Regions from separate parts of the Homo sapiens genome. Here regions 1, 2, 3 and 5 are each reported to be linked to region 4. Evidence: microRNA targets listed by miRTarBase, many of them from high-throughput screens and not tested one by one. Region 4 holds a microRNA gene; each other region holds the end of a gene's coding sequence. Distances are from middle to middle.
The links. The annotated mature microRNA hsa-miR-4329 reads CCUGAGACCCUAGUUCCAC and lies in region 4 at 3,785-3,803, opposite strand. An mRNA with a match to its seed (bases 2 to 7 or 8) in the 3' UTR can be bound and repressed. Matches are read on the target gene's strand: a 7mer-m8 pairs with bases 2 to 8, a 7mer-A1 pairs with bases 2 to 7 and ends in A, and an 8mer does both.

Region 1: the mRNA of BCL2L12 is a reported target of hsa-miR-4329. Seed matches in the 3' UTR shown: 7mer-A1 at 4,189-4,195.
Region 2: the mRNA of GPR173 is a reported target of hsa-miR-4329. Seed matches in the 3' UTR shown: 7mer-A1 at 2,800-2,806 and 7mer-m8 at 4,770-4,776.
Region 3: miRTarBase lists RAB40A as a target of hsa-miR-4329. The part of its 3' UTR that is shown has no 7-base or 8-base seed match.
Region 5: the mRNA of EHD1 is a reported target of hsa-miR-4329. Seed matches in the 3' UTR shown: 7mer-m8 at 5,253-5,259.

Annotation. Positions count from the first base shown.
Region 1 is chr19:49,671,514-49,677,949 of GRCh38, reverse strand. BCL2L12 (BCL2 like 12) reads right to left here. Exons shown (of 7, transcript NM_138639.2): 7 at 4,034-4,252. The coding sequence ends at 4,202. It overlaps PRMT1 (protein arginine methyltransferase 1), which reads right to left and starts at 679. Exons shown (of 11, transcript NM_001536.6): 1 at 634-679. The coding sequence starts at 669. RefSeq lists a silencer at 185-464 and enhancers at 309-1,040, 1,045-1,194, 5,605-5,794, 5,288-5,846.
Region 2 is chrX:53,075,244-53,081,679 of GRCh38, forward strand. GPR173 (G protein-coupled receptor 173) reads left to right here. Exons shown (of 2, transcript NM_018969.6): 2 at 1,282-5,372. The coding sequence starts at 1,379. The coding sequence ends at 2,500. Among named protein-coding and RNA genes, the nearest start is that of TSPYL2, 3.9 kb to the right of the region's middle. RefSeq lists an enhancer at 2,347-2,406.
Region 3 is chrX:103,497,131-103,500,130 of GRCh38, forward strand. It overlaps RAB40A (RAB40A, member RAS oncogene family), which reads right to left. Exons shown (of 3, transcript NM_080879.3): 3 at 2,000-3,000. The coding sequence ends at 2,793. The region is part of intron 5 of LL0XNC01-250H12.3 (a long non-coding RNA gene); the gene reads left to right. Among named protein-coding and RNA genes, the nearest start is that of RAB40A, 21 kb to the right of the region's middle.
Region 4 is chrX:112,776,944-112,783,379 of GRCh38, forward strand. MIR4329 (microRNA 4329) reads right to left here and starts at 3,845; the gene lies at 3,775-3,845. It overlaps AMOT (angiomotin), which reads right to left. Exons shown (of 14, transcript NM_001113490.2): 11 at 5,597-5,719; 12 at 3,943-4,175; 13 at 2,054-2,737; 14 at 1-1,721. The coding sequence ends at 1,624. RefSeq lists an enhancer at 2,450-2,950.
Region 5 is chr11:64,851,915-64,858,194 of GRCh38, reverse strand. EHD1 (EH domain containing 1) reads left to right here. Exons shown (of 5, transcript NM_006795.4): 4 at 2,709-2,873; 5 at 3,338-6,280. The coding sequence ends at 3,862. Among named protein-coding and RNA genes, the nearest start is that of CDC42BPG, 10 kb to the right of the region's middle. RefSeq lists enhancers at 3,118-3,177, 2,419-3,618, 2,866-3,864, 3,865-4,863, 6,181-6,280 and a silencer at 4,461-4,520.

The DNA of each region.
Region 1 (6,436 bases), not on the chromosome of region 4:
GGAAACGGGGTCGGCGGGGGACCCCATTCTTGGTTTTCCTCCAGTCCCTAACCCAGAACGCACAAAACCGGGTCCGATATCCCAACAGATGCCCCCGGAGCTCGGAAGGAGGTTGGTAAAGGGCTGAGAAGCACTGCTCCTCCCAAGAGACTCCCCACATCGTGGAGGGCCCCAGGTCGATCACACCCCACGGCGTGTGCCCAGGTCCCCGGGGAGGAGGGCTGGGGGCGTCAGGAGGGTCGGACCCCCTCCCCGCCCCCCTGGGCGCCCCTCCCCGGCCGGGGGCGGGGCCTTTGTCCCGCACGTGGAGCCCGCCGGGCCACTGGACTCGGCACACCCCCTCCCCACCCACCGCGCAGCGGCCACGTGGGGGCCTGGCCGGAAGCGCCCCCAGCCCTCCTCCACGTGGGAGGGGGGATAAGACCCTCCGCTAGGCCGGATGCCGAAGGCCCTTGGAAGCTAGGGAGCCGTCACCTCAAACGATATCCCCGGATGTGGAACGTGCGGCGCCCCCGTGTGCGGCGGGGGACCTCCAACCCCATATCGCCAACTTAGAGCCCTTTCCCCACCACAGAGGCGTGAAACACCGACCCAAAGCCGCCTCCCGCCCACGGCGGCGCTCCAAGCGCTCACCTCCATGATGCAGTTCGCGGCCTCGGCTGCCGCCATCTTCACCCGCACCTACTCCTCCTCCGGCCGCCAAGACCCCCCCTTTCTCCTCACTCCCCCGGGACCGCCTTATACCAGAGGGTCCACGGCCCGCCTACCGCGACCCCGCTGGAAGATTTCATTGGCAATGGAGGCGGCCCGTCTGAGAATACCGTCTAGTAATTGGCTAGAGAATACGTCCATCATAGGTCAGGGGTTTGCCAACTCTGGCGTCCAGAATCCCGCCCCCTCAAGTCGACCCGGGATGGGGAAAACTGCCCGTCTATTGCAAGAAGCGCGACTGGTGATTGGGCAAAATCCACCAGGAATGCCCTCCCCTTTACACCCAGCACCGCCTCAAAGCTTCCCGGGGAGCCCCGCGCTAAAGGGGCGTCTTGAAACACCTGTCCATCACCAAAACGACCCGCCTCCTAATCGCTGCCATTGGTTTATCCGGAAGCGACGTCACGCAGCCTTTGGCCCACCCTCGCCAAGCGGCCGGCCTCAAGGAGAACACGGCAATTGGCCCACGGGTAGGGAAGAAGGCGGGGCTTCAGGCACCAACGATTGGCTCAAAGGAATTATCACTCCTCGTCCACTCGGTGGATCCTCCCAACCCGGGGGGAGTCTGGAGGAAAAAGGGAGCTTGTGCTCATTACCTGGGGGAAAAACGGAATCGGTGAGAGGCCCAGAGAGAGGAAGGGCATAGCTGGGGTCCCGAAGCAAGTGAGGAATAGGAGTCCGTCGTCAACACATTAAATCCCTAGCCCTTGACATAATCATTCCAAGTTTTTTAAAACCATCAACCCCTCTCAAGCCACTTGGTTTTTGCCAAGTCCCTCCCCCTGCCAGGAACGCCCACCTCTCTTTGTCTGGTCAGCTTCTAAACGTGAATCAGAGCACAGCTTAGGCACCACTTCCTCCGGGAAGCTTTCCTTGATTTGCAGAAAAAGTTCCTAGTTGAATGAAGCTGAATGCAAAGGGCCGAATGCGTGGGTCCTGCCCCTCCTCTCCCCGATCCCTCTACTTCCCTCTGCTCACACTTCTCTCCAATCCCGGAATGAGCTCGCTCTTTGGTTTCTGGGCCTCCGCGCAGGCTATACTCTCTGGCGTGCCGCTGGCAAACGCCTGAGACTTAAAATTTACAATAGGGTTCGGGCGCGATGGCTCACGGGTGTAATTCCAGCACTTTAGGAGGCGGAGGCAGGCGGATCACTTGACATCAGGAGTTCGAGACCAGTCTGGGCAACATGGTGAAACCCCCATTTCTATTAAAAATACAAAAATTACGCCAGGCGGCCGGGCGCGGTGGCTCACGCCTGTAATCCCAGCATTTTGGGAGACCGAGGCGGGCGGATCACAAGGTCAGGAGGTCGAGACCATCCTGGCTAACATGGTGAAACCCCCGTCTCTACTAAAAATACAAAAAATTAGCCGGGCGTGGAGGCTTAGGCAGGAGGATGGCGTGAACCCGGGAGGCGGAGCTTGCAGTGAGCTGAGATCGCGCCACTGCACTCCAGCCTGGGTGACAGAGCGAGACTCTTGTCTCAAAAAAAAAAAAAAAAAAAATTTGGCCGGGCGCGGTGACTCACGCCTGTAATCCCAGCATTTTGGAAGGCTGAGGTGGGCGGATCACAAGCTCAGGAGTTCGAGACCAGCCTAGCCAATATGGTGAAACCCCCGTCTCTACTAAAAAAACAAAAATTAGCCGGGTGTGGTGGTGGGCGCCTGTAGTCCCAGCTGCTCCAGAGGCTGAGGCAGGAGAATCACGTGAACCCGGGAGGCAGAGGTTGCAGTGAGCTGAGATGGTGCCACTGCACTCCAGCCTAGGCGACACAGCGAGACTCCATCTCAAAAAATAATAAAATAAATAAAAATAAAAATAAAAAAATTAGCCAGGACTGGTGGCACACGCCTGTAATCCCAGCTACTTGGGAGGCTGAGGCAGGAGAATCGCTTGAGCTCAGGAGGTGGAGGTTGCAGTGAGCCAGGATGAAGCCATTGCACTCCAGCTCGAGCGACAGACCGAGACTCTAACTTTAAAAAAAAAAAAAAAAATTGAAAAGCATGGCACTAAACAAACCAAGAAAAGGACATTTGTTTCCAGTGTTTGAGCTGAAGCAAGAGGAGCCCAGCTGCAAATATGCACATCAGGTCTTTAGCTTGTTGCAGCTCTGTGCATAAGCATTGCCCTCCAAAACACCACAAAAGCACTGCCTTAATTTTTGGGGTATGAATACATTGTAGCAAGGATGCAAATTTGCAAATAATCTACAAATACTGAGGATCAACTGTAATTGGTTCGGTTTGTAATCCTGTACATTTCACTTATTAATTTACAAACATTACTCTGTGAAGGGGGATATGGCCCTATAAAGGAGACAAACCGCCCAGGCACAGTGACTCATGCCTGTGATCCCAGGACTTTGGGATGCCAAGGTAGGAGGATCACTTGAGCCCAGGAGGTGGAGACCAGCCTGGGCAACATAAGGGAGACCCCATTTCTACAATTTTTTTTTTTTTGAGACGGAGTCTCGCTCTGTTGCCCAGGCTGGAGTGCAGTGGCGTGATCTCAACTCACTGCAACCTCTTGCCTCCCGGGTTCAAGCGAGTCTCGTGCCTCAGCCACCCAAGTAGCTGGGATTACAGGCACCCACCACCATGCCCGGCTAATTTTTGTATTTTTAGTAGAGATGGGGTTTCACCATGTTGGCCTGGCTGGTCTTGAACTCCTGACCTCAAGTGATCCACCTGCCTTGGCCTCCCATAAAAATTCTTTTTTAAAAATTAGCTAGGCGTCGTGTCGCATGCCTTTAGTTCCAGCTACTAGAGAGGCTGAAGTGGGAGGATCACTTGAGCCCAGGAGGTTGAGGCTGCAGTGAGCCATGATAGTGCCACTGTATCTATATAACAGTGCAAGTATAGGCAACAGAGCAAGACCCTATCTCCAAAAAAAAAGGGAGAGTGGGGGGTGTGTGTGAGACAAACCACTGGTCTGTAGGTAGATGAGAAACCAGCAAGAGAGACTTGAAAGGAGCAATGGGAGGAGAAAAACAAGAAGAGGGTGGTGTCCTAGACACAGGTGAAGTTAGACTGTACCTTTCTGTGGAATTCACTGGAAAGACTCCATGACCATCATACAGCATTAGCTAGAATAACCAGATCGTGCAATAGGAAAAAAAAATGCAAGTTGCTGGAATATTTACAGGTATTCTCTCAAATATGTTACATGTCCAGGAGACAGGCTCTTGTAGGTGCTGCAAATAAATATTTCTAGAATGAATGAACTGGTTCTTTCCTCAATTTGCGTAAGCCACAGAAATCTCTGAACCAAATCTCCTCTCCTTAAAACTTTAGTTCCCAAGTGTAAGAACAGACAATTGAATACTTTGTAACGTTTTTAATAAGAAAAGTTTTAAACAATTTATTTTTGGCAAAAACAGGTAGGGCAACCACCACCCCACAGCCCTGAGTGGAATAGGAAGACTTGGAAAAGCACACGAAGAGGGCAGGGACATGAGGTGTCATCTTGTAGCAGCTTCTGAGAAAGAGCTCAGTCCAATGGCAAGTTCAAGTCCACGGGTGAAACAGCCAGGATGCCCTCCTGGAAGGGAAAAGTGGCAGAGCCCTGTGAGCAGGGCAGGTGTTCCCCCCATACAGCAGCGTCCACATCAGCCCTGTGAGATTAGAGACGGGAAGGCGAGGAACCAGAGAGCGGAGGGTGACAGACACCCAGACAAGGGGACAGAGACCCAGACAGAAGGGCACAGGGATGAGGGGGCAGGGTCCTAGCAGGAGGAGGAAAGGTTGAGCTCGAGGAGGGTCAGGACACTGGAGTGGGATTAGACAGAGATCCAGAGAGAGTGAAGAGTTGGGGGACAGAGTCAGAGATGGGGAAGAGAGTCTTGGGATTTGAACAATTCAGAGTCGTGGCTTTGTGTACAAATCCAGATTCCAACACTCTGCATGCTGGGGACTTTTCCTCTCTGCCCCCACAAGACGAGGACAATAAGAGCCCCATGAGGTTGTAGTGGGTTTAAATGGGATCATTCCATTGAAATCCCTAGCAGAGGACCTGGCCCACCGAGAAAACTCATCTGCTATCAATCCTACTTTAAAAAAATTTTTTAAGAAATTGTCCAGGCGTGGTAGCTCAGCCTGTAATTCCAGCACTTTGGGAGGCCGAGGTGGGTGGATCACTTGAGGCCAAGAGTTCGAGACCAGCCTGGCCAACAGGGCAAAACCCCGTCTCTGCTAAAACTACAAAATTAGCCGGACATGGTGGTGTGCGCCTGTAACCCCAGCTACTCAGGAGGCTGAGGCAGGGAATCGCTTGAACCCAGGAGGTGGAGGTTGCAGTGAGCCAAGGTCGTGCCACTGCACTCCAGTCTGGGCAATAGAGTGAGACTCCATCTGAAAAATTAAAATAAAATAAAATAAACGAGCTTCTTTGCTGAGCCCAACACTTATATCCATTCCCCTCAACATGTGCTATGAGTTCTGATCTTACTGTAGACCGGACCACCTCCAGTCCTGCTCCCCACCCCCATCGCCCCCATCCCCACACCTTCCCCATCTCGGGGAACTTAAGATGTCGCCCTGCAGCTGCTCGGGCCAGCATCCTTTAGTCTGTCCCCACATCTGGCCCATTAGCCAAATCTGTCAGCTTCACCGCTAAGTTAAATCCAGCATTCTCCACCGCCCCCGACTTGGGTGAGATCCACTCACCTCCTCCCTGTGCCCCTACTTCTGCCCTCGCCCCCAGCAGTCTGTCCCCAGGCAGCCGCCAGAGGGCGCCCATTAGCGCCTAAATCAGCGCCTGTCCCTCCGCTGCTCAGAGACCTTGGCTTACCCAGAGTCAAAGTCCGAGTTGTCACTCACCGTGACCACAGGGTCCTGGCTGGCCCGGCGCCTCTCCTCCTCTCATCTGTCGCCCGCTCACCCTACTGTAGCCCTACTGGCCTCCTCCTCCCTGCTCCTCAAACACACTTGACCAGCTCCTGCCAGGGAAACCGGTTCCATCCAGAGCCTGGCTTGTGTCCCTCTCTCAGTGAATACCCACAGCGACCCCCCAAGGCAGGTAAATGAGACGGTGCTCACTGGACCAGTGGGGAGAGTGCCGCTCAGGGAGACTGCGACAGTCGCCAAGCCACAGGGCCAGCACGCTGGAGCCCAATCCAACTCTGAAACCGGCACTGGAGATAAAGTAAGAAAAGGAGAGGGGAAGACTTCTGGGTCTCCTGAAGCTGATGTGTTAGAGGTGGGAGACACCAACAAAGAAAAATAAACCAGAAGACAAGTAAAACAAGTCAATTCCACCATCTGTTGGAAGGCCCAAAGTGCTATGGAAGGAAAAGTAAAGCAGGAAGGGGGAAGGAGGGCGGTGGGAGGGTGTGCAGGTGGCTGTGATTGTCAATGGGGACCTGGGAAGGCCTCGTTGGGGGTGAAACCAGAGCCCACCAGAAGGAGCAGGACGGAGGCAGGGGGTTCCCCGGGAGGGCATCCTGGCAGGCACTGTTGGAAAGGCAGCAGGTAGCCATATAACCTCACCAACAAAATGCCTGCATGCCAGGCAGTGCACAGAGGGCTTACCACATTGACCCCATTTTAACCCTCAGAGCGACCCTTTGAGGTAGCACTACTACTCTCACTATTTTATTTTTTGAGACAGGGTCCCACTCTGTCACCCACACTGGAGTACAGTGGCGCAATCATAGCTCACCACAGCCTTGAACTCCTGGGCTCAAGTGATCCTCCCGGCTCCTCTGCCTCCTGAGTAGCTGGGAGT
Region 2 (6,436 bases), 60 Mb from region 4:
CATGACTCACTCTCTCACCTCCCTTAGGTCTGTGCTCAGATGACACTTCCTCCGTGAAGCCTCCCCTGTCCACCTCATCTAAAACTGCAGCATCTTCCCCACCCCTAGCACTTCCTATCTTCCTTCCCTCCTTTATGTTTATTCTTAGGAACTTGTCATCATCTGACATACTATACTTCACCCGTGTCTCTTCTTTGTTATCTAGAATGTCGGTTCCACAAGGGCCGGGATCTTTATCTGTGTAGTTCACAGCTGTATCCCCAATACCTAGAACAGTGCCTGGCACACAGATGCTTGATAAATATTTTTTCAGTGTATGAATGAATATGCACAAGCATCCCTACATGTTTATATTCACACATACTTGCCTCCTCACCTAAAATAAAAACCAAAGTCCTCATCGTGGCCCACAACCCTACACAATCTGGCCCCAAGGCATCTCTGCGACTTCACCTTCCACCACTGTCTCCCTTGCTCTCACCGTTCCTGCCTCACTCGTCTTCCTGCTGTTCCTCAAGCACACTAAACACATTCCTCATCATGAATAAAGAAATCTATTAAGTGAGTGGTACCAGCATTTTAAGAACACATGAAAGAGAATAAAAATGAATGGGGTACATTGCATACAGGTTCAGTACTGTTTTGTGAAACTTTTGGTTGAGCTGTGTGTGTGCGTGCATGTATGTGTAGCGGGTTGTGATGTAAAATGTATTTTTTTACTGTGGGTGGCAGTAAAAAAAAGTCTGAACACAACCTTAGAGCTTTGCAAAAGGGGAGAAGAGCTGCACCAACATCCCTGCCCCACAGATCCACCAGTGGAGGAAACAGGTAACCAAAGACATCCAAAGAAATGCAGCATCCTCACCTGACAAGGAGCGGGTAGGAGCAGGAGTGGCCCAGGGGCAGGGCCTGGCACCAGCCAGGGCATAATTGGGGAGGGCTCGTAGACACACTAACCCTACCCTTTCTGTTTCTTCCTCATCTTTCCTTTCCATCTGTTTCTCATGGTCTCCTGTCTGTCTCTCTCTCTCTCCCCTCTTTCTCTCTCCTCGCTCTTTCTCATCCCCTCCATTTCTGTGTCAATCTCAATCCATTTATATCGGTGGCCACTTTTCTATCTCTTTGTTCTATCTCTCTCTCTCTCTCTTTCCCACTTTGTCTCTGCACGCCTGTTGTGTTTTTCTGCCTGTCTCTCTCTTGCCCTCATCTCTCTGTCTCTCTCTTGCCCTCATCTCTCTGTCTCTCTGTGTCTGTGTCTCCCCCGCTCATTCCCATTTGCAGGTGCAATGTAGCAGGACAACTCATGGAGCCCCCCCGGGCCCATCGAGTACCGGACTGGCTGACCCCCTAGGGTTGGCAGTAGCCCCTGACCCTCAGTATGGCCAACACTACCGGAGAGCCTGAGGAGGTGAGCGGCGCTCTGTCCCCACCGTCCGCATCAGCTTATGTGAAGCTGGTACTGCTGGGACTGATTATGTGCGTGAGCCTGGCGGGTAACGCCATCTTGTCCCTGCTGGTGCTCAAGGAGCGTGCCCTGCACAAGGCTCCTTACTACTTCCTGCTGGACCTGTGCCTGGCCGATGGCATACGCTCTGCCGTCTGCTTCCCCTTTGTGCTGGCTTCTGTGCGCCACGGCTCTTCATGGACCTTCAGTGCACTCAGCTGCAAGATTGTGGCCTTTATGGCCGTGCTCTTTTGCTTCCATGCGGCCTTCATGCTGTTCTGCATCAGCGTCACCCGCTACATGGCCATCGCCCACCACCGCTTCTACGCCAAGCGCATGACACTCTGGACATGCGCGGCTGTCATCTGCATGGCCTGGACCCTGTCTGTGGCCATGGCCTTCCCACCTGTCTTTGACGTGGGCACCTACAAGTTTATTCGGGAGGAGGACCAGTGCATCTTTGAGCATCGCTACTTCAAGGCCAATGACACGCTGGGCTTCATGCTTATGTTGGCTGTGCTCATGGCAGCTACCCATGCTGTCTACGGCAAGCTGCTCCTCTTCGAGTATCGTCACCGCAAGATGAAGCCAGTGCAGATGGTGCCAGCCATCAGCCAGAACTGGACATTCCATGGTCCCGGGGCCACCGGCCAGGCTGCTGCCAACTGGATCGCCGGCTTTGGCCGTGGGCCCATGCCACCAACCCTGCTGGGTATCCGGCAGAATGGGCATGCAGCCAGCCGGCGGCTACTGGGCATGGACGAGGTCAAGGGTGAAAAGCAGCTGGGCCGCATGTTCTACGCGATCACACTGCTCTTTCTGCTCCTCTGGTCACCCTACATCGTGGCCTGCTACTGGCGAGTGTTTGTGAAAGCCTGTGCTGTGCCCCACCGCTACCTGGCCACTGCTGTTTGGATGAGCTTCGCCCAGGCTGCCGTCAACCCAATTGTCTGCTTCCTGCTCAACAAGGACCTCAAGAAGTGCCTGAGGACTCACGCCCCCTGCTGGGGCACAGGAGGTGCCCCGGCTCCCAGAGAACCCTACTGTGTCATGTGAAGCAGGCTGGTAGGCAGACAGGCAGAGAGAAGGTCATGGCCACCGTGATGGGGCCAACAGCAAGGGAGGGGTAGGGGCCCATACAGGAGTCCTCCTTTCTGAGCTCCAGCCCCAGCCCCTCGAACCACCTGTAATCTAGGCACCTTTGCCAACACCTCCCAAGGATGGAGGACTGGGCGAGGGACTGGGAAAGAGGCATATTTAGTTTTGTGGGGCCTGTCTCCGCTGCCTCCTTCTCCACTTCTACAATCTCATTCTCTCTCTCTCTCTCTCTGTCTCTCTCTCTCTCTCTCTCTCTCTCTCAGAAGTGACAATTCAGAAAAAGAAAAGAACACTGAGAATGCAGGTTTTTCTACTAACAGCTGAGGAGACAGGCTTTCTTACTTTAATGTCTCTCCTTCTGACACTGTCCAGAAGGGGGAATTTGTCCTGTAAAATAGACTTCCAGAGCTCTTTTGCCCCCTCTGCTCCCATGCACCCTCCCCTTCCAAGTCCTTTAGCAAGGCCTGGATGTTTAGGGAGAAAGTGGTCCAAGGCTGCTGACAAGAGGGACCAAAGGGGGTGCTGGGTTCCCAGGGAGCAGGGATGTTTAATTACTATGTCATGTGCAATGTTGTTTTAGGCCAACCCTTGCCCCAAGCCCAGTCTCTTCTCCCTCCCCACCATGTCCAGACCTCCCAAATGGTTCTTGTGCATCTGTTGGAGAAGTCAAGGGAGTAGGGAGAAGGGCCCCAAGGATGGGCCCAGGTTAGGTGAAGAGTAAGATGTGAGCTGAACTCCTCGAACTGAAGAGACCCACACTTGGTCACATTCTCTCACGCTGCCTTCAGGATCCCCAGCCCCCAACTCTTCTTCCTGAGGATGGAAATCCACTCCAGCCCCACTAGGACTGATGTGGGTGCCATACAGGCAGGAGCAGCCCACCAGGAAAGTGTAAGGAGGGAGCTGAACTCCCCAGAGTAGCTGGACCACAGAGACTTGGGTCAGAGCTGATTTCAACCCCAGAATTGTCTCTCGGGTTCACCCTACTCTTCTGAAGATGAAAATTTGTTTGGGGCCTTGGTAACCGATAGCGGTACAAACTCCAAGGCACTGTGGACTTGAGTCCATTCCTATCTGACCTCTTTTTGTCCCCCTCAAGCCTCAGGGGCCTCAAGCCCCTCCTTAGTAGCCCTTGGCTGACTGGGCCCTGAGCCCCAAGCATCCTTCTTTCCCAACAACCCTCCTTCCCCATCCTTCCCCCACCCTTACCTACACCCAAAGTGGAGCACACTGCAGTCAGATTCTCCAGGAGGGAGATCCAAGCCTCCTCCCAGGGGTGGAGTCCACTCTGGGCTTACTTTGAGGCCTGTTCTGTGGATTGGTGAGCCAAGCTGGCACTCCTTGCCCTGGTCTTACCCAGGCTCTCTGTCCCCCTCTCACTTCCTGTGGGGCCGGAATCTGTATTTATCCATCCCCCTTTCCCTTCTTTATAGAAGTCCCTGTCCTAAACTCCCTCCCTAGCCCAAGAGAGCCCCAGAACTGGGGAAGCCTGACCCATACAGAATGGGGAGGGCACTCTAGGCAGGAGAGACATTAATGAGCCTGGCTGCAGAGTGGCCCTGGAAAGGCAGGCCAGAGTGGCTGAGAGGCTGGGAGTAGGGGAGCCTGTTCTCTCAGCGATAGTGATGGGGGTGCCTTTCCGAGGGGGTGGGGTGGGAAGACCAAGGGGGTGGGGGGTAGATAGGGTACATTTAGGAGGGTTTTCCTCCATTTCTTTTTTCTAACTGCCTGGATTCACCATTGGATTTTGTAAATGGAAAAACTGAAATGAACAATGCTATACTGGATGTTTTCTCTTTCTGACTGTGTGTGTGTGTGTGCGTGCGTGCGTGCATGTGCCCTGTCTGACCACATGTGGAGAGACATGATTGAGTGATAGTGTGTGTCTGTGTGACTTTGTGTGGGGAGGCACTCCTGAAGAAAACTTGCCCGGTGCACACACGTAAAATGCCTGTATATGGGGACAGATACAGCACGTGCATGCATACACACACACACACACACACCACAGTTGAGAGGAGACAAACTAGAGTATGTGCCCGTGGTAGGAAGTCGAGTGGTCAAGAGATGGATCTTGGAAACTACATAGGTCGGTAGCAAGAGGGTAGACTCCCATCTCACAAGATGGGCCTCCCTTGGCCCAGGCCCTGAGCACGGGAGGGCTGGGGCCGCCAGGGAACTTGAAAACCTCATCTCCTCACAAAGCCTGTAGCCCCATCTCAACCCCGTCTCAGTCTCCTTCCCAAACTCAAACAAGGTGTTCCTAAAATTGGACCACCATGGAGAATGGGGACTGGGAATTGAGGATCAAATGTGAGGGAAACTGATGAGGTTAGGAAATGCCCCCCACAAAGTAATGGCTTCTGGAGGGACTGCTCAGTCTGGGATGGGAGCCCTTCCTAGGGGCCACTGTATGCAGCTGGGACTTTGGTCAGCTTTGACCAAATTTAGAGGGAGGGATGTCATGGGGAAAAAAAACCCAAGCCCAGGAGTCTACCCAGCCAGCCTGCTCCCTAGACAGTTAATTTACTATCTGGTTATTCTCTCAGGTGCACAGAATTGAGTTGACCATACTCCTCAGTTCTTGGCACACTATATCATCATTGGTCCATGTGAGGCCCTTTTATTTTTTTTTCTTCAGTTTTGTCCCCTTCATCACCCATTCCTGATCCCATCCTCCCCGCCCCCTACACAGGCACCCACTCTCGTGTATTTAACGTACGTCCTTCCAATCCACCGTTCATGTGTTTATTTACATATATGTGTATCTGTGAAAAATGTATGGTATTGCTGTGTGTTTTAATTTACATAAACAGTATTGTACTATAAATCTTGTTGTTTCTTTTTTCACTCAACATTCTGTCTTTGAGAGATCCAGCCATGTTGCCGTATATAGATCTAATTCATTCTAGTGGTCCATCTAAAACATATATCACATTTTTCTTATCCACTCCCCTGATGATGGATCCCTAGGTCTCCTCTCTGCTCCGCGACAAGGCTGCAATGGGCAGTTACCTACACCTCTCTTGAGGGATGCCTAATTTAGGGGAGAGAAAACTGAAGCTCAGAGAGGGGCAGTGATTTGGTTAAGGTTACAAAATGAGGGGCACACCCATGATGTGAATCCCAGCACCAAAGCCAGCCCTCCACCACCATGCCTCACAAAAGACCATCCATCTCTGGTTTAAAAAGAAAAATCTTAAAATACAGCATACACTGGGGAAAGGGAGAGGAAAGGATGGAAAGGGGGAGAAATGAAGAGACAGAAAGTGCTAGAAAATTCTAGCAGATGAGCTGAATCACAATCATTTTTATGACGCAGAGGAAGTTACTTTTTTGTGTGTGTGATTATTATTTGTAGAGCCATTTTGCGGAGATGGAAAACGCCACGTCAAAACCTGGCCCCCAAACCAAACACCCTGGGTGCCTAAATTGCAGGCGCAGGCGGTAGGGCAGCCCGAGCCCCCGAGGAGCTACAGCAGAGTTCACCCAGGGGGCAAACGTGGGGGGTGGGGGAAGGGGCAGAAGTGGAAGGTAGGAAAAGAGGCAGAAGCGGGGGGGCGGGGGGCAGGGGTTGTGTGAGGGAAGGGGCAGAAGTTGGGGGATAGGGGAAGGGCAGAAGCGGAGGGCGGGAGGGTGAGGGAAGGGGCAGAAGTGGGGTTGGGGGGTGAAGGAAGGGGCAGAAGTTGGGGGATAGGGGAAGGGGCAGAAGTGGGGGTGAGGGAAGAGACAGTTGGGGGATGGGGGTCAGAAGCAGGGAATGCGGGAAGGGGCAGAAGGGGGGGTGAGGGAAGGGGCAGAAGCGGGGGAGGAAGGGGCAGAAGCGGGGGGTGAAGGGGCAGAAGCGGGGGTGGGGTGGGGGAAGGGGCCGAAGCGGGGGATGGGGGAAGGGGC
Region 3 (3,000 bases), 9.3 Mb from region 4:
GAGGTCTAGGGTTTTAAATTATGTTTTAAAATTATCAATGATAAGAGGCTCTCTCAGGGTGGAAATATTAAGGAGAAGGAGCCATCTCTTCTTAGGTCTAGAAACTGAGTTTACCACAACCCCCTTACTTCCTTGTTTCTATTCTGGGGAAGTCTAAAACTTAACCAGAGGGATGGTGTCATTTGACTTTAATGCCTGTTAACTATGGGGATGGATAGATGGATGGATGGATGGATGGATGGATGGACAGATGGATGGATGGATGCACGATGTGTCAAACAGGTGCTGGTATTTTATCTTCCAGCACTGAGCTCCTCACACAGGTGACTGAACCCGTGGTTTTGGTGTCTGAGAAGATGCAGCTTCTCCAGTCTCTGCAACTGACGGCAGGAAGATGGGAGCACTCAGCTTCAGTGTTCAGAAGCAGATTTAGGCCAATTGCCATACCTTACGTTCTGGAGGGATCCACCCTGACCTGAGCAGGTGAGGTCACAGAAAGGCTTGCTGTCCATCACAGGGACAGGATTACAGCCTGCTCAGAAGCATGTTGTGGTCCAGCTCTTGTGTCACTTAAAAAGACTCCAGCTCTTCTCTAATATTGAATTCAACTAATATCACAGAGAGATGTTCTTAATCTTCTAGACAAACACACTGCCATCAGTATTCCCCAGAGGCCACAAACACACCCTGGAACCATAATGCCACCAGTAGCTCTAGGAGAACTTGCAGGCTAATGTGCCTGTTGCTCATTGTTTTTAGGCTACATATGAAAATGGACCAGTTTGCAATAAAAATATAATGCAATGATGATTATCAGAGCATTTTGTATACTAGGGAATTTTTTAAGTTATCTGAACATCAAATTAAATATAATGACAATGAAAGAATTTCCACCTGTCATATCATCAAAGTATAAAAAGAAACCATTCAGGATTCCAGTAAGGTGGGCATGCGGGGAAGCCTACCCTGTTTCATATTGGTGGTGGGGATGTCATTTAGTACAACCTCTTTCAAGGTTGATTTGGTAATTTCTATTAAAGACTCTATGCATCCCCGATCTGCATGTGTTTGGGGCCTGCTCCTTCAAGTATTCACCCTCAGCATGGCCCCTGTCCCTCTGAGAGTGCATATTCTTCCTGATACAGGAACTGTCTGCGGACTCGTTTCTAAAGCAATGGCCCAGACACACTCCCTTGTCTACAGAGTAGGAAATTTAGGTCTGACAAGGTTCTCTGTCTTTCATAAGAGAGACAGAACTGGCAGCCTGGCTTCAGAGCTGAAGATACAGATTTCAGTAGTGACCCAGGTCAGCAGGAAAGCAAGATTTGCTTGGTTATGTTGTGATGTGCAGCTCAGCATCACAGTCTGCCTGGGGGCATATAGGATGCTAGTCTCTGCTTTTCCACTTAGTGGCAGGATGCTCCCCAGCCAGGTTGCTTAACCTGCAAACATCCCTGTTTCTTAAGCTACAGGATGGTGTAGAGATTATATCCTCTACCTCCCAGGAATGTTGTGGGAAATTCATGAGATAGAAAAGTACCAGCGTTCAGGAAGGGTGAGTCCCCACAGCTCCGTGAGGCCAGAGATACTGCCCTTCTGCGGGACTTTGTTACAATCACCCTATGACAATGCACAAATAAATGGTCATTCAATTACAAAAGAGTACAAGGACTTATATTTACTCAGTTCATCCAATATCAATTATTATAATAATCAACAGTGTAAATTGGAAAGTAACTACGTGGAAACCACTTCTCCTTCTTTCCCATCTAAGGTCTCAGAAGTGCTTTCCCAGATGTGATCTCATTAACCTCTATATTGATCTGAGAGGTGTTAACCAAAACTGGCCAGCACAGGGGAAATGACTCACCTAAGGCCTTATAATGGGCCTGCCCCGCCATGTTCTATTGCATTGTTTTTCTGCAAAGCCTCATCTTGCGGGGTTACACTATACATATTTTTCCTCTCTTTTCGTTTTACCAAAGAGAAAAATATATACTTTTTTACTGTTAAGAAACATTTTCTCAAATAAGTACGTATTTCATTCCTTACTGAAATGGTTTTTTCTTATTGATCCATTGAAACCATATTGGCTATGTTCAACATAACTAGAGATATCTTTGGTGTTTTCCTCCCTTAGCTTCATATCTTGTAGAACATCTCGTACAAAAAAAGTAGATTTACAGAAAAACATACATATAAATCACGTATTAATCCCCAAATGTAGTAAATAACATAGCAAAAACTTTATCAAATCCATTTCATGCACAAGCTGGACAGATCTGTTATATACAATCTCTATATGCATCTGCAGTGTTTTATAAATTGGTGCTTTGACATTAAAAAGGAGGTTTACAAAAAGGCCCCTCTTGTACTATCGATGACTGAATTATCTCACTATCATTGCTTCTCAAATTTCCTTGAATTTATACTCATCATTGCCATATCACCATTCTAACAAAGGCGGTTATTTTAAGGAAAAAGTTGCAGCGTGATTATGATATAAGTAACATTCAAAATTTCACGTTATCAAGAGTTGAGCAAAGTACTAATTTCCCCTTTATAAACACACGTTTAAAACAAGAGCTTCATGCACATCCAAATAGAAATTCAAAGTCAAACTGTGTAATGTGTTTTTATTGACAGAAGGCATCACACACATTCCCAAGCAGCATGGTTCCCGTGAGAAACTGAAAACTAATTTCTTGAATCTACAATGCGACTTCCATCTTCCAGGTGTAACCAGAGTTTTTCCTGGAGCGATTCCAGCTTGTTTCCTTTTGGTGCCTTCCTTAAGAAATTTTGCAGCTGTTTCTGGTGCAGTTTTTGGGTGGGCTCTGGGGTGGGCAGACGATCTCCACTTTGCAGAGGCTGCTCTTGTGAGTGGAGCTGGTGGTGAGGGAGTAGGAGAGGCCTCGCATCATCCTGGCATTCAGGCCCTTAGCCATGGAGAAGGACTTGAGGTGGCTTCTTAAGGTACTGGGGAGCGGGAGCTTGTCC
Region 4 (6,436 bases):
GTGTTGTATGACTTTCAAAAAGTCACTGAACCTCTCCAGTTCTCAGATTCCTCATCACTAAAATGAGGAGGTAGGGCTATATTGCTAAAGTTCTTTCCCACCACTATGGCTCATGATGTAATATATCAGGCCTACTCTTCTATTAATCTGGTTTCTAACTAAGACATCCCAAAACCTCTACCCCCAACCCTTACCTAACACCCCCCACTTCCCTCACCCTCCCTATACCCCTTAAAACTGATCTTAATGATGCTATCTGCAGATTTCTCACCTTAATGAAGGGCAGACAGGTGACACAGGGCAGGGACCTGTGGCAACTGGCATCCTTCTGTGTCCTTGGAGGCAGCCCTATGGCAAGGCTTGGAGCCATTGCCTCCTTTGATCTCTACCCACATGCACATTTCCTGCTGCTTCCCAAAGGTATTCCAAGATGGTGTCACTGACAGTGAGAAGAGGTAGTTGAGGATACTGCTGCAATCCACCTCTCCCCCGACTGCAGCATAGTACTTTGGGTTTCTCAAGCTATTCCCTTGGAGGTGATAGTCAAAAATGCCTTTTAAGACATATGCTTAGAATTTGACAAACAAAACAAGTTATTTCAAAGTAGTCACCAGAAATTCAAAGCATTCAACCTGTCAACAAAGATCCTTCCTCACTTTGCAAATGATTGGCAATTTGAGACTGGAGACCCAGCCAGTGAATCTGTGCTGTAGAAGAAATAAACACTAAGCTGATTGGTCTTACTAAATGCAAGCAAGCTGTGTTCATGGCTACACACAAACCATGGAAGTCTGCATATAGCACCCCATGCAACTCTCCATCAAGGCCTCTGATGGTCTAATTCCCTAAGAGAGAGGAAGTTGCGCATCACTCAGTTAATGTACTCTCCCAGCATCTGAAAGCAATATATTAATTATCCAAATGCATAAATTACTCCAGAGCATATATATGAATGTATGAACCTCCAGGAGGGAACCAAAAGAATCCATTTCCAAAGCACCACTGAAATGAAGACAAACACAATTCCCTGGGGCAGGGTAGCTGGGAAACTGGAAGAAAAAATTAGCTCCAGTACCCTTCTGCACCCCAAAACTCCCTACCTTTTTTCCAGCTTACATAGCTCCTGAAACTATTCCCTTTTGTAAGCCTGAGGTGAGTGCTTTCTCCAGCTGCTGCACAGGATAGTAACTATACAAAACAGCACACACTCAATTCTCTCTAGCTTCCCACTTCCAAACTACGTGTTATACACTGTCTTCCACACATACTGTGCTCTTCAATAAAAAATGATCTAGAATATGGAAAATTTAAACAAATTTAAGCACATTGAAAACGTCGATGTATAGCCACCTGTTAACAGTCCCAGTATTCGTATAAATTCAAACAATAAGCTTTAGAGCACATTCTGATTAATCTGTCTTTAGAGGTACTCCCTAAGCATACCAAAATAGACTGGTGTTCACATGGTATTACTCAAGTAGTACATTGTTCCAATAAAAAGTCCTGTTAAAAAACATCCCCTCCCCACAACCCTTGTCCTCACCCTCAAAACAAGAACCAATAAAAGGGGGAAAATGATTAAAAGCATTTTTGCTGATAATCTGCAGCTCTTGATTTGGCCGTTTAGATGAGATATTCCACCATCTCTGCATCAGGCTCTTGTCCCAGGATCTGAATGGGAGTTTTTCTTTCCAGAGTATTGGAGTGGAACACAGGCCCATCTAAATGGAAATAAGGGTTAGAAAACACTTAGGGATGAAGAAAAAACCCATATTTCTAGAACCAGACACCATCAGAGCCCTCATGAAGCCAATGGCAAAGTGAGACTTGCCTGCCACCTCCCTCATTTACTTCTGCTAAGATAATGGCCTCTACTCATGCCTGTTCCCATCTTGGTGGATGAGAAGTCATTTACAGACTCTCTTCTCTCTCCTTTAGAACGTGAAAAACTCAGTCCAAATGATAACTCTGCCCAGACATCAGACAACAAGAAATAAATCTGTATTTGAGAGCAGAACTAAACCAAAACCTACCTGCTAAAGGGAATAATTACCTGTTTTGTCTGGATTGCAGGTCAAACTTGGTATAGACAAACGATGTGGTCCAGGACCGGTAGCTGGACTTGCAGGAACCTCAGCCTGAGCCACAGCTGGAGTTGGAGTTGGAGCTGGAGTTGGAGCCACAGCCGGAGCTGAAGTTGGTGCCTGAGTCTGAGCAGGAGCAGAAGCCTGAGCCGCTGCTGGAGCTGGAACCGGAACCAGAGCCGGAGCTGGAACTGGAGCCGGAGCAGCTGGAGCAACCTGAACAGCAGCAGCAGCAGCAGCAGAAGGAGCAACGGCAGCAGCTGAGGCAACAGAGGCAGCAGCTGGAATCTGACCAGCAGCAGCTGGAGAAACAGCAGCAGCAGTAGCAGCGGCAGTGGCTGGAGACGGGGCAGCAGCAGCAGCTGGAGCAGCAGCAGCAGCAACAGCAACTGGAGCAGCAGCTACCATGGTGGTGGTGATGGTGGCAGCAGTGGCAGTGATGGCGGCAGCAGTGGCGGCAGCAGCAACTGGAGCAGGAACAGAGATGGGAGCAACAGCTGCAGTTTTGTTCGATTCCGTCCCACGTTCAGTTTGGGTACTGCAGTCTCGGCTGCCTGTCTTGGAGTGAGCCGAGAGCAGGGGAGTCGAGGGTGGCACAGGCGAGGGTGTGGAAGGGACATATTCAGCACGGTAGTCTCCACCCAGGAGAATGCCTACAAATGAAAGAGGAACAGATGTTAGAAAACAATAGGTGATTCAAATCCAGACATCTAATTACCTGTTCTCCCATTCAAATTTCAGAAGAAATTTATTTATTTTTAAATAAGTAAATATTATTTAAATATTTAAAATATTATTATTTTTAAATATTAAATAATTTAGAATAGTCTAAGTTATTTATTTTTGCCTCCAGGGAACCCAGAAATCAGTGTGTGAGGCTCCTCCAACCATGGCTAAAAGTTTCCTACAGACTTCGAGGATCCCTTCTGGTCCTCATCCATCACCTGGCACAACATATTAAGCCTGTAAGTGACCTGGGTATCTGTTTTGATTTATTTTTCCAATGGTGATTGGGTTCCACCAAGTTGTCAGAATGCTCCTACTCGGCTCCACTTATAAACCATTACCACACGTTACCAGGGAGCAAGAAAGGATCTGGGGAAGAAGTCTGTTGACACAGATTGAGTGTGGTAATAATTGTGTGATCTGAGGTTCTCACCATGACCATAGTCCCCAAAATGCTTATTCTAACCAAAAGATATTACAAGTATCAGAGGACCAAGAAAGGAATTAACAGCAACAAAAAGGGTTAAAATAAAAATATATATAAGCTTCCTTCCTCGGGCTCTAAAAATGTGCCTCGTGGTATCCACAATATGTCTGGGGTTTTGATTAGAGGGGAGGGAATGGACAGGAACGGAATGAAAAAGTACATTCTGTTCTCATCTCACAACACTGTGGGAACAAAACCTGCTACCCAAACGATTTAGTGTAACTAAAACTCTGGGTTCTCCTATTATAGAGGAGGAAGGAACACAGAAATGCCGGAATTTTGACATTTGGAACGACACAAAGGCCACATGGGCTTTGGAGAAAGATAAAGGTGCCACATGGCAAAGGCCAAATCTGAGAATAGTTTAGAGGAAATTAGAGTTATCTTCCTTGACACCCAAATGAAACTCAAGATTCTTGTCCTCTAAGCCTTGGCCTCAATCGGTATTCTCACCGGGAGACTTCAAAGTGTGGAGGAGCTCCAGAATGTGGAACTAGGGTCTCAGGAGGAAAAAAAAACTCCAAAACCCTGGTACACCTTCCTCTCTAGAACCTGGACCATCATCCCTTTTCCTTAAGCATGGGTGCTTATCTCAGGGCTCTCTTTGAACACGTGACTATAATCTTCCTTATTTACTGTCATTACCTAGGCTCCCCTTCCAGCTCTTGTCGTCTCGCTTTTCTTCCATGATGGGGGAGCCAGTCAGGGTGGATGAGTGGGAGAGCAAGCCTGATCCAGCATTGGAAATGGACATCAGAGACTTCGCTGGCCGCATGCACGACAGCTGCTCTGTCTTGCTCGGCTCCTTCCGGGAACGCTGCTGGAGTACTTTGATCATGGCATCCTTCTCAATAATCTGGGCATGGAGGGTCTTAATCCTAGGAGCCAAAGGCAAAGAACATATAAAGACCTTGTTGTGGGCTGGGCGCGGTGGCTTACGCCTGTAATCCCAGCATTTTGGGAGGCCGAGGTGGGCGGATTGCAAAGTCAGGAGTTCGAGACCAGCCTGGCCAACATGGTGAAACCCTGTCTCTACTAAAAACACAAAAATTAGCTGGGTGTGGTGGCAGGCGCCTATAGTCCCAGCTACTCGGGAGGCCGAGGCAGGAGAATCACTTTAACTTGGGAGGCGGAGGTTGCAGTGAGCCAAGATAGTGCCACTGCACTCCAGCCTGGGTGACAGAGCAAGACTGACTCCATCTCAAAAAAAAAAAAAAAAAAAAAAAAACCTTCTTGCTACCTCCACATTTTGGTCTAATTGACTACATGACTACGTGGAGCTCCCATTATCTTTTCGACTAAAGGCTGATCTAGTTAGTTCTGAGTTGGAAAACAAGGGATGGTGTGCTACAGTTTTTAAAACATGTTTTTTCTTTTTTCTGCACACCCAAATGGATACAGCAGAGCATCCAGGAGCTGTTGCTTAAATCTTAGTAAGTCACAATAAAGTACCAGTGAAAAAAAAGGCTGAATATGAGAGAATGAACTGATGTACTAGGTGCTGTAGTGAAGAATCTCAGTCAATGGAAACAATTTACTCAGTGAGAAGATGAGATCTATGAATGAGCGACAACCTGCAGGTAGTAAGTAAATGATCATGTGTTTATAAAAGGAATCAGGTATCCTACCTCCACTTTGAGTAGATGTTCTTTTTGTTGTTGTTGTTGAGACGGACTCTAGCTCTGTCGCTCAGGCTGGAGTGCAATGGCATGATCTTGACTCATTGCAACCTCTGCCTCCCAAGCTCAAGCAATTCTCCTGCCTCGGCCTCCTGAGTAGCTGGGACTACAGGTGCCCGCCACCACACCTGGCTAATTTTTGTATTTTTAGTAGAGACAGGGTTTCACCATATTGGCCAGGCTGGTCTTGAACTCCTGACCTCAGGTGATCCGCCCGCCTTGGCCTTCCAAAGTGCTGGGATTACAGGTGTGAGCCATTGTGCCCGGCCGAGCAGATGTTCTTTTACTCTTTTATTAAGCAATCTGCTGTATCACAGGGTTGTGGTGCAGTGCTAGAAAGAATACTCCAGAGTGCAAATGCCAACAATTCAGCTCAGGCAGAGGGAAGAGGAAAAGCAATTAGGAAGGCCAAAGGGACAGAAACCCTACCTGGAATTCCATGTTTAGTGGAGATTATCAAGGTAAAGGTCATTGCATCTCACACCTTTAAGTGACAGGCTGGCAGGGGTGATGGTGGAGCGGGGAGGCTGCATGATCAGATTTCCTAGCTGTGAATAAAGATCCTATGTGGTCTCTATATCAATGTCTCAGATTCCTCAGGGTCCAGAACAACATTTTACCTGCCCTCCATGTCAAGGCAACGCTTATTGGCCATCAAGATTTCTTCCTCCTCTTTCTGGATGCGAGCTTCTAGAGCTGTGTCATAGCTGGTGTTAGGAGAGTGACTGATGACTGTTGTGTCCCTGGGGAGGAAAATGGAAGTGATGAGATGGGAGCATAGCAAGATCAATGAATGTTATCTTTCTTCTAAGTCAAGGAAGGCTTTTCTGGAAAGTCCTAAGCTGAAATCAAGCACATTTGGAACAGATGGTTTCTGGGGAACTAACCCGTAAGAGCCTCCAAAATAGGACAGTTCAGCGTTCAGGGTAGAAGGCAACGTTATTAGTATAGAAGTGGCTGCAAAAGTCAGTGAGGGATGAGATATGCACAGACTTGCCTTCAGAACTGAACAGATATCATCCCAAAACCTTCTGGCAGATAGCCCCTTCAAGTTTTTAGATCATGGCCAAGCAACAGGAATATGTATATATTGGGCCAGGCATGGTGGCTCATGCCTGTAATCCTAACGCTTTGGAAGGCTGAGGCAGGTGGATCATCTGAGGTCAGGAGTTTGAGACCAGCCTGGCCAACATGGAGAAACCCTGTCTCTACTAAAAATACAAAAATTAGCCAGGCATGGTGGTGCACGCCTGTAATCCCCGCTATCTGGGAGGTTGAGGCAGGAGAATCACTTGAACCCGGGAGGTGAAGGTTGTTGTGAGGTGAGATCGAGCCACTACACTCCAGCCTAGGCAACAGAGGGAGACTCTGTCTCAAAAAAAAAAAAAAAAGGAATATGTATATATTTCCATTTTATTCTCCTAGAAGTCATAGAGGGGGAAAGGTCAGACTTTCAAGAA
Region 5 (6,280 bases), not on the chromosome of region 4:
AAAAGAAAAGAAATAGGCTCTGGCCAGGCATGGTGGCTCACGCCTGTAATCCCAGCACTTTGGGAGGCCAAAGCAGGAGGATCCCTTAAGGCCAGGAGTTAGAGACCAGCCTGAGCAACCTAGTGAGACCCTGTCTCTATTTAATTTAAAAAAAAAAAAAAAAAAAAAGGCCCTTGCCGTAGCTCCTATCTCCAGGCCAGCCAGGCCGGAGCGTGGCTGGGGAACTGTCCTGCCTGCCAAGCCAGGCCCTTTGGTGATACGTCCCCAGTTCTTCAACAGAGCAGGGTGCTTGCCCCCACCTCATGGCATGCAGGGGGTACCAGGGTAGACATCATGTGGGCATGAAGGCTTCAGTGACAGATGTGCCTGTGGCCAGGGTCACAGTCCCCTGATCTCCAGAATATAACTGAGGACTGAGGATGGGCACTTCCTGGGGAGCCCATGTCCCTGCCTGCTCAGAGGCATGGAGACTGCAGGCGTTGAGCACAGTGGCCCTCGTACCCACTCTGTCTGGAGGCCAGTCAGAGGGCATGTGGGTGCTACCTGGTCTGAGCAGTGAGAACTGACCCTTCATCCTTTGCCACCACTGTCCTCCCATTGTGCCCCAAGTACCCTGGGCCCCACCTCACCCTGTAGATGAGGAATTCTCATTCTGGCCTGAACCTCCGTGAGCTGTGTGCACGGGCGTGGGTCAGATGCCGGCTCTGGAGGACAGAGGGCTGCGTGTTTTTCTTATTTTTAATTTTATTATTTTATTTTTTGATTTTTTTGGAGATGGAGTTTCACTCTGTTACCTAGGCTGGAGTGCAGTGGCGCAATCTCGGCTCACTGCAACCTCCGCTTCCCAGGCTCAAGCCATTCTCCTGCCTCAGCCTCCTGAGTAGCTGGGATTGCAGGCGCCCGTCACCACACCCAGCTAATTTTTATATTTTAGTAGAGACGGGGTTTCACCATGTTGATCAGGCTGGTCTCGAACTCCTGACTTTAGGTGATCCGCCTGCCTCGGCCTCCCAAAATGCTGGGATTACAGGCGTGAGCCACCGCGCCCGGCTGGCTGGATGTTTTTCTAGATCTCTCCCTTCTGGAGCCTCCCTGTGAGTGGAGCCAGCTTTGAGAGAGGAACCCATACAAAAACCCAGGTGACTGACCCTGGCCTCAAAGGACAAAGGACGTCCTGAGCTGAGGGGTGTGGGTGTGGCCCTAGCTGAGTTTCTCTCCTTGCAGGGCAGAGAGAGCTCCCTTGCTCAGCCACCTTTGAGGACAGACAGGACAAGGGGCAGGCATGAGCCCCTGCCTGGTCGTCTGTGAGACCATGTGTGACTGCCAGGCCCCAGGCACACTGAGTCACCGCGCCTGGAAAACCCTGTGGCCTCCAGTGTTGCCTCACACCTGCCACTTCCTTTTCCTGGAGTGAGTGGTGCTCTCTGTGATGACTCCCACCGGCCTGGGATCTGCCTGCCACAGTGTCCCTGGGGAGACTCTAGATCCAGACCCACATGGCACGGGGCTGCCTCCCTCAGGCAGTTCTCAGCCAGGCCCCCACCCAGGGCACAGGCTCAGGCTGAGCGGGGTGGTGGATGGGCTGGAGCCGGGGAGAAGGGCAGCAAGGCTGGCTGGCCGCAGCCCTCTGTGGCTGGACACGACTTGGCAAGGCCGAGGGATCTGAGGGCTGGGCTACTCTCGAGGGCTGCCAGGTTCCCAGCTTGCTGCAGGGAAATGAAGGGGGTGCCGCCCTGAACAGGCACATGCCTAAGCAAGGTATTGATGCTTGGATAAAGCTGGCAACCACCAGGAGAAGCCTTTTTGGGATTTTTCAAATCCTTCGTCATCCGAGCTGTGATGATGGAGTGGAGCGTGGCACGGGCCCATTGGAGTTCTGTGGGCTCCATCGGCACTCAGCAGGGATTTGGACGTGCAGGCTGGTGGGCCCTGCAGGAAGCCTGCTCCCTGCTCTGCTGCGTGGGAGGGGGCAGCTCGGGGGAAGGGGGCTTGCAGAGAAACAGAAGAACATGGGCTGTGGGGCACCTTCAGCAGCCCGGGGTTCCAATCCCAGCTCCTCCATGTGGGAGCCAAGCACCCCAGGCAGCCTTTCCCAGCCTTGCTTAGGGCCGGGTTGGGAGAATCCCACCCCGCAGGGCTGTGGTGAGGGTTGAACGGAGGGTGTGTGGTGAGGGTTGAGCGGAGGGTGTGTGATGCGTGGTGAGGGTTGAGCGGAGGGTGTGTGATGCGTGGTGAGGGTTGAGCGGAGGGTGTGTGATGCGTGGTGAGGGTTGAGCGGAGGGTGTGTGATGCGTGGTGAGGGTTGAGCGGAGGGTGTGTGATGCGTGGTGAGGGTTGAACAGAGGGTGTGTGATGTGCCCAGTGGTACACGACAAATTGCCTTCTTTGGGTTGACAGACTGGGTTTTACTCTTCCTGAATCATCACAATGATCCGTGCAAGGCCAAGGCTGTTGTCTTCTGTTTCAAGTGCGTTTTCCTGTCCTGTCCTCTGTCCTGTGGCAGTGGACAGCTGTGGCTCTTGCCAGATTGTGTCTGCTCCTAGGACTGTGGGAGCCGGTGGTGGTAGCGGCCTTGAGCTTGACCCATCCCTCCTGCTTCCCTGTTCCTGAGCGAGCACCTTGGAGTATCCTTGGAGTGTCCTTGGAGGCTCTGCTCTCGGGGGCAGCCTGGGCCAAGAGAGCGCCTGATGCTCACCCCGTCCTCACAGGTTCACGCCTACATCATCAGCTCCCTCAAGAAAGAGATGCCCAATGTCTTTGGTAAAGAGAGCAAAAAGAAAGAGCTGGTGAACAACCTCGGAGAGATCTACCAGAAGATTGAGCGCGAGCACCAGATCTCCCCTGGGGACTTCCCGAGCCTCCGCAAGATGCAGGTACGGCTGTCCCGAGGCCCCATGCAGGCTGGTGGCCATCAGGGCAGAAGGAAGGCCCAGGGCACTGGATTTGGAGGGAATCCCATCTCCATGGGGAAGGGCCTCCCTGAACGGAAGCAGCTGGGTTAATCACCAGCACCCCACCCAACTCAGAGTTGACCCAGGCGGTGACACTGCAGAGGGGAATGTGGTGACTCACCCTGCGTGGTGGGGGGAGGGCAGGGCCATGCCAGGCGCTCTGGTGCCCTGTCCATGAATCCTTGCCGCAGCCCTGCAAGGAAAGAGCTGGAGGTGCCTCCTGTGTACAGGTTAGAGAGCCAAGGGCCAGATGGTTTTGCCGAGTCGCCCCTGCTAGTGTGGGGGAGCAGCACTTTATGCTTGTGAAGCCCTGACTGGAACCACTTGGCCTGGAGTCTGGGAGGGGCCTCCCTTCCCAGCCCTTGTCCTTCCTCCCCCGCCCACAGGAACTCCTGCAGACCCAGGACTTCAGCAAGTTCCAGGCGCTGAAGCCCAAGCTGCTGGACACGGTGGATGACATGCTGGCCAACGACATCGCGCGGCTGATGGTGATGGTGCGGCAGGAGGAGTCCCTGATGCCTTCCCAGGTGGTCAAGGGCGGCGCCTTTGACGGCACCATGAACGGGCCGTTCGGGCACGGCTACGGCGAGGGGGCCGGCGAGGGCATCGACGACGTGGAGTGGGTGGTGGGCAAGGACAAGCCCACCTACGACGAGATCTTCTACACGCTGTCCCCTGTCAACGGCAAGATCACGGGCGCCAACGCCAAGAAGGAGATGGTGAAGTCCAAGCTCCCCAACACCGTGCTAGGGAAGATCTGGAAGCTGGCCGACGTGGACAAGGACGGGCTGCTGGACGACGAGGAGTTCGCGCTGGCCAACCACCTCATCAAGGTCAAGCTGGAGGGCCACGAGCTGCCCGCCGACCTGCCCCCGCACCTGGTGCCGCCCTCCAAGCGCAGACATGAGTGATGGCGCCCGGCCCCGCACCTGCCATTTGCACGCCCGGCCGGGAGGCAGAGACGGGGGGAGGGGAAGCCTCACCATTTCTCAAGGTCCATAAAGACTGAGCGGATGTTTCCTCGCCTCTCGAAAAGGAAAACCACCATCTTTCTTTTAAGGCTGTTCCTGGGCCTGGCGGGGGAGGCAGGGGTGAGAGGATGGAATTGTGTGCACAAGAACTGTGGCTATTTTAATATATAACGTTAGAGGCTGCGTTCTTTGTCGCCGCCTCCCCTGTGTGCCAGCCCTGTGTGCACGGCCTCTGCCCCCCGGCCTTTGCTGTGGCTGGAGCTGGACAGTGCAGCGACTGCGACCGTGGGGGAGCCAGGTCGCCCTTTTGGCAGCTGCTAGGCTGAGGCTGCATGGACAGGAACACCAGGCACCCTCCGTGTGCTTCTGAGCTGAGGTTGCTTCACGGGACCGTGGCTTCCTTCCTCACCTGGCTCTGCCTCCCCCGTGCTCTCGGGCGAAGTGGGTTCTTGTGCCTTCCCCTCCCGGGCCCAGGCTCCCCGTGCGCGGGCCCTGCCCTTTCCTCCCGCGCCCCACCGGCTCCGACGCGCAACCCCGCTCAGCAGTCACAGAAGCAGGGCCCAGCCACCTTGGTCTTTTTTTGGGAGTTCAGGGGAGTAGGAGAATGTCTTCCAGAAAAATACATAAGCTAGTTTCTGTTCTGTAAAGTGATATCTTTCATACTTGACCAAAGTTCCCAATAACTTCCCAACCACTGTTCAAAAGCTGTGATTTTTGTCTCCCCTTCCCACCCTCCAGCCAAGGAGCAGCCCTGCCCAGGGGGCATTAGGTGTGGGTACCCGGGGAGCACCCCGTTCCTGGACCCCAGTGTTGCATTTCCTGGCTGAGGAAGGGTGGTCATCCCAGCTCCTGCCCTACCCTCTCACTTAACTGGAGCTTTGGGACGCACCCTCCACAGTGGGAGGTGGTGGTGGGTGGCGGTGGCGGGGCCTCACGACAGCTTGGTGCTGGTAAGAGGAAGCCCGTGGTTCTGGCTAGGCTCTCATGTCCAGACAGCGGGGACCAGGGGAAAACCCAGCCCCTTCTGTAATCCCCCTTCATTTCCTACCTTCCTTCCTCCTCTGTTTAGCAAAGGAGGGCAGCTCACTTGGATGTCCTTACAACGCCCCTGGCCCCCAGGTTGAGCAATAAGAAACCAGAACCTTGCGGCCCAGTGGCCCGGGCCAGTTCAGGCCGCCTCCCCCTCCTCTGCCTGGGGCCATTGAGCCCAGCCTCCAGGGCCCGGGCGCGTTTGCAGGCCAGTGGCCACTGTCCGGGCTGTGATGGCACCAAGGCAGGTGGAGCACCAGGTACCACACAGCTGGGCTTCCCACCAGGCTTTCCCGCGGGGGTCTCAGGGAGCTTCTCCCCAGCGCTGCTCGGAGTCTGCAGGAACTGGCCTTGTTCTCCTTAGCCCGTCACTCCATACAGTATTAGGTGAGGATGGATGCGGGCGCTGTCCTTGCCGGGAAGTCACTGTTGAAGTTGCAGTGGCTTGTTCACACCTGTGGGAAGAGAAGTGAAGACTTTCTCCTTGCATTAAAAAGTCTGAACTGTGCGAAAGCTTCGGGTGCTTCCTTGTCTTTTCCAGGGGCAGCAGTCCTGGGCCATCCTCCCCTGGTGTCTGAGGGGGTGATGCCAGCAGGGACAGAGTGGCAAGGCAGCCGGGGCAAGGTGACCAACCCTGCCCAGTCCTGCTCTGCTGGGCAGTAGCTGCCCCCTCCTACTAAGAGGGCCAGGCCTGTAGGGAAAAGGGTTTCTGGGGTGATGCCCCCTTCCCTGAGCAAGGTGGGAGCTGAGCAGTTCACTTGGGGTGGGGAGGGGGGAAACAGTTGGGAGGATGTTGATAGCTGAGGCCTAGGCTGGCACCCCTCAGCCACAGACGGATGAGTGGGCACCTGCAGGCCCTCGGCACTGGGTGGCATCAAGTAAACAAGGGTTTCTGGGCTTTGGAGCCAGACTGGCTCCTTGCTAGCCCCAAGGACGGTTTAAGTACAGGGAAGCCGGGCCTCTGAAGACAAAGCAGATAGCCTGTGACAAACATGCAACTAAGGGTGGGGCCAGTCAGGCCCAGGTGATGTCACAGATGGGGGACTGTTTATACCAGCAGAGGGAAGGGTGACTGATTAGTGACCCTTCATAAAAGGGTGCAGACTTGAGGTGCCATGGGTAGAGGCTGCTCCAGCCCCTCTGGCAGAAGGCAGGACAGAAACAAGTTCCTGAGGGTTTCAGGGACCCAGTTGTGTGCTCCGAGCCTAGCTGGTGTGGTGGTGTCTGGTCCTATGACCAGCACTTGAGGTGCCAGTGGATGCTTCAGTTGCTGCAGGGCTGGCCGGCCCTCCCTGCGTCACTCAGCTGCCACCTGTGGGCATTCACCCT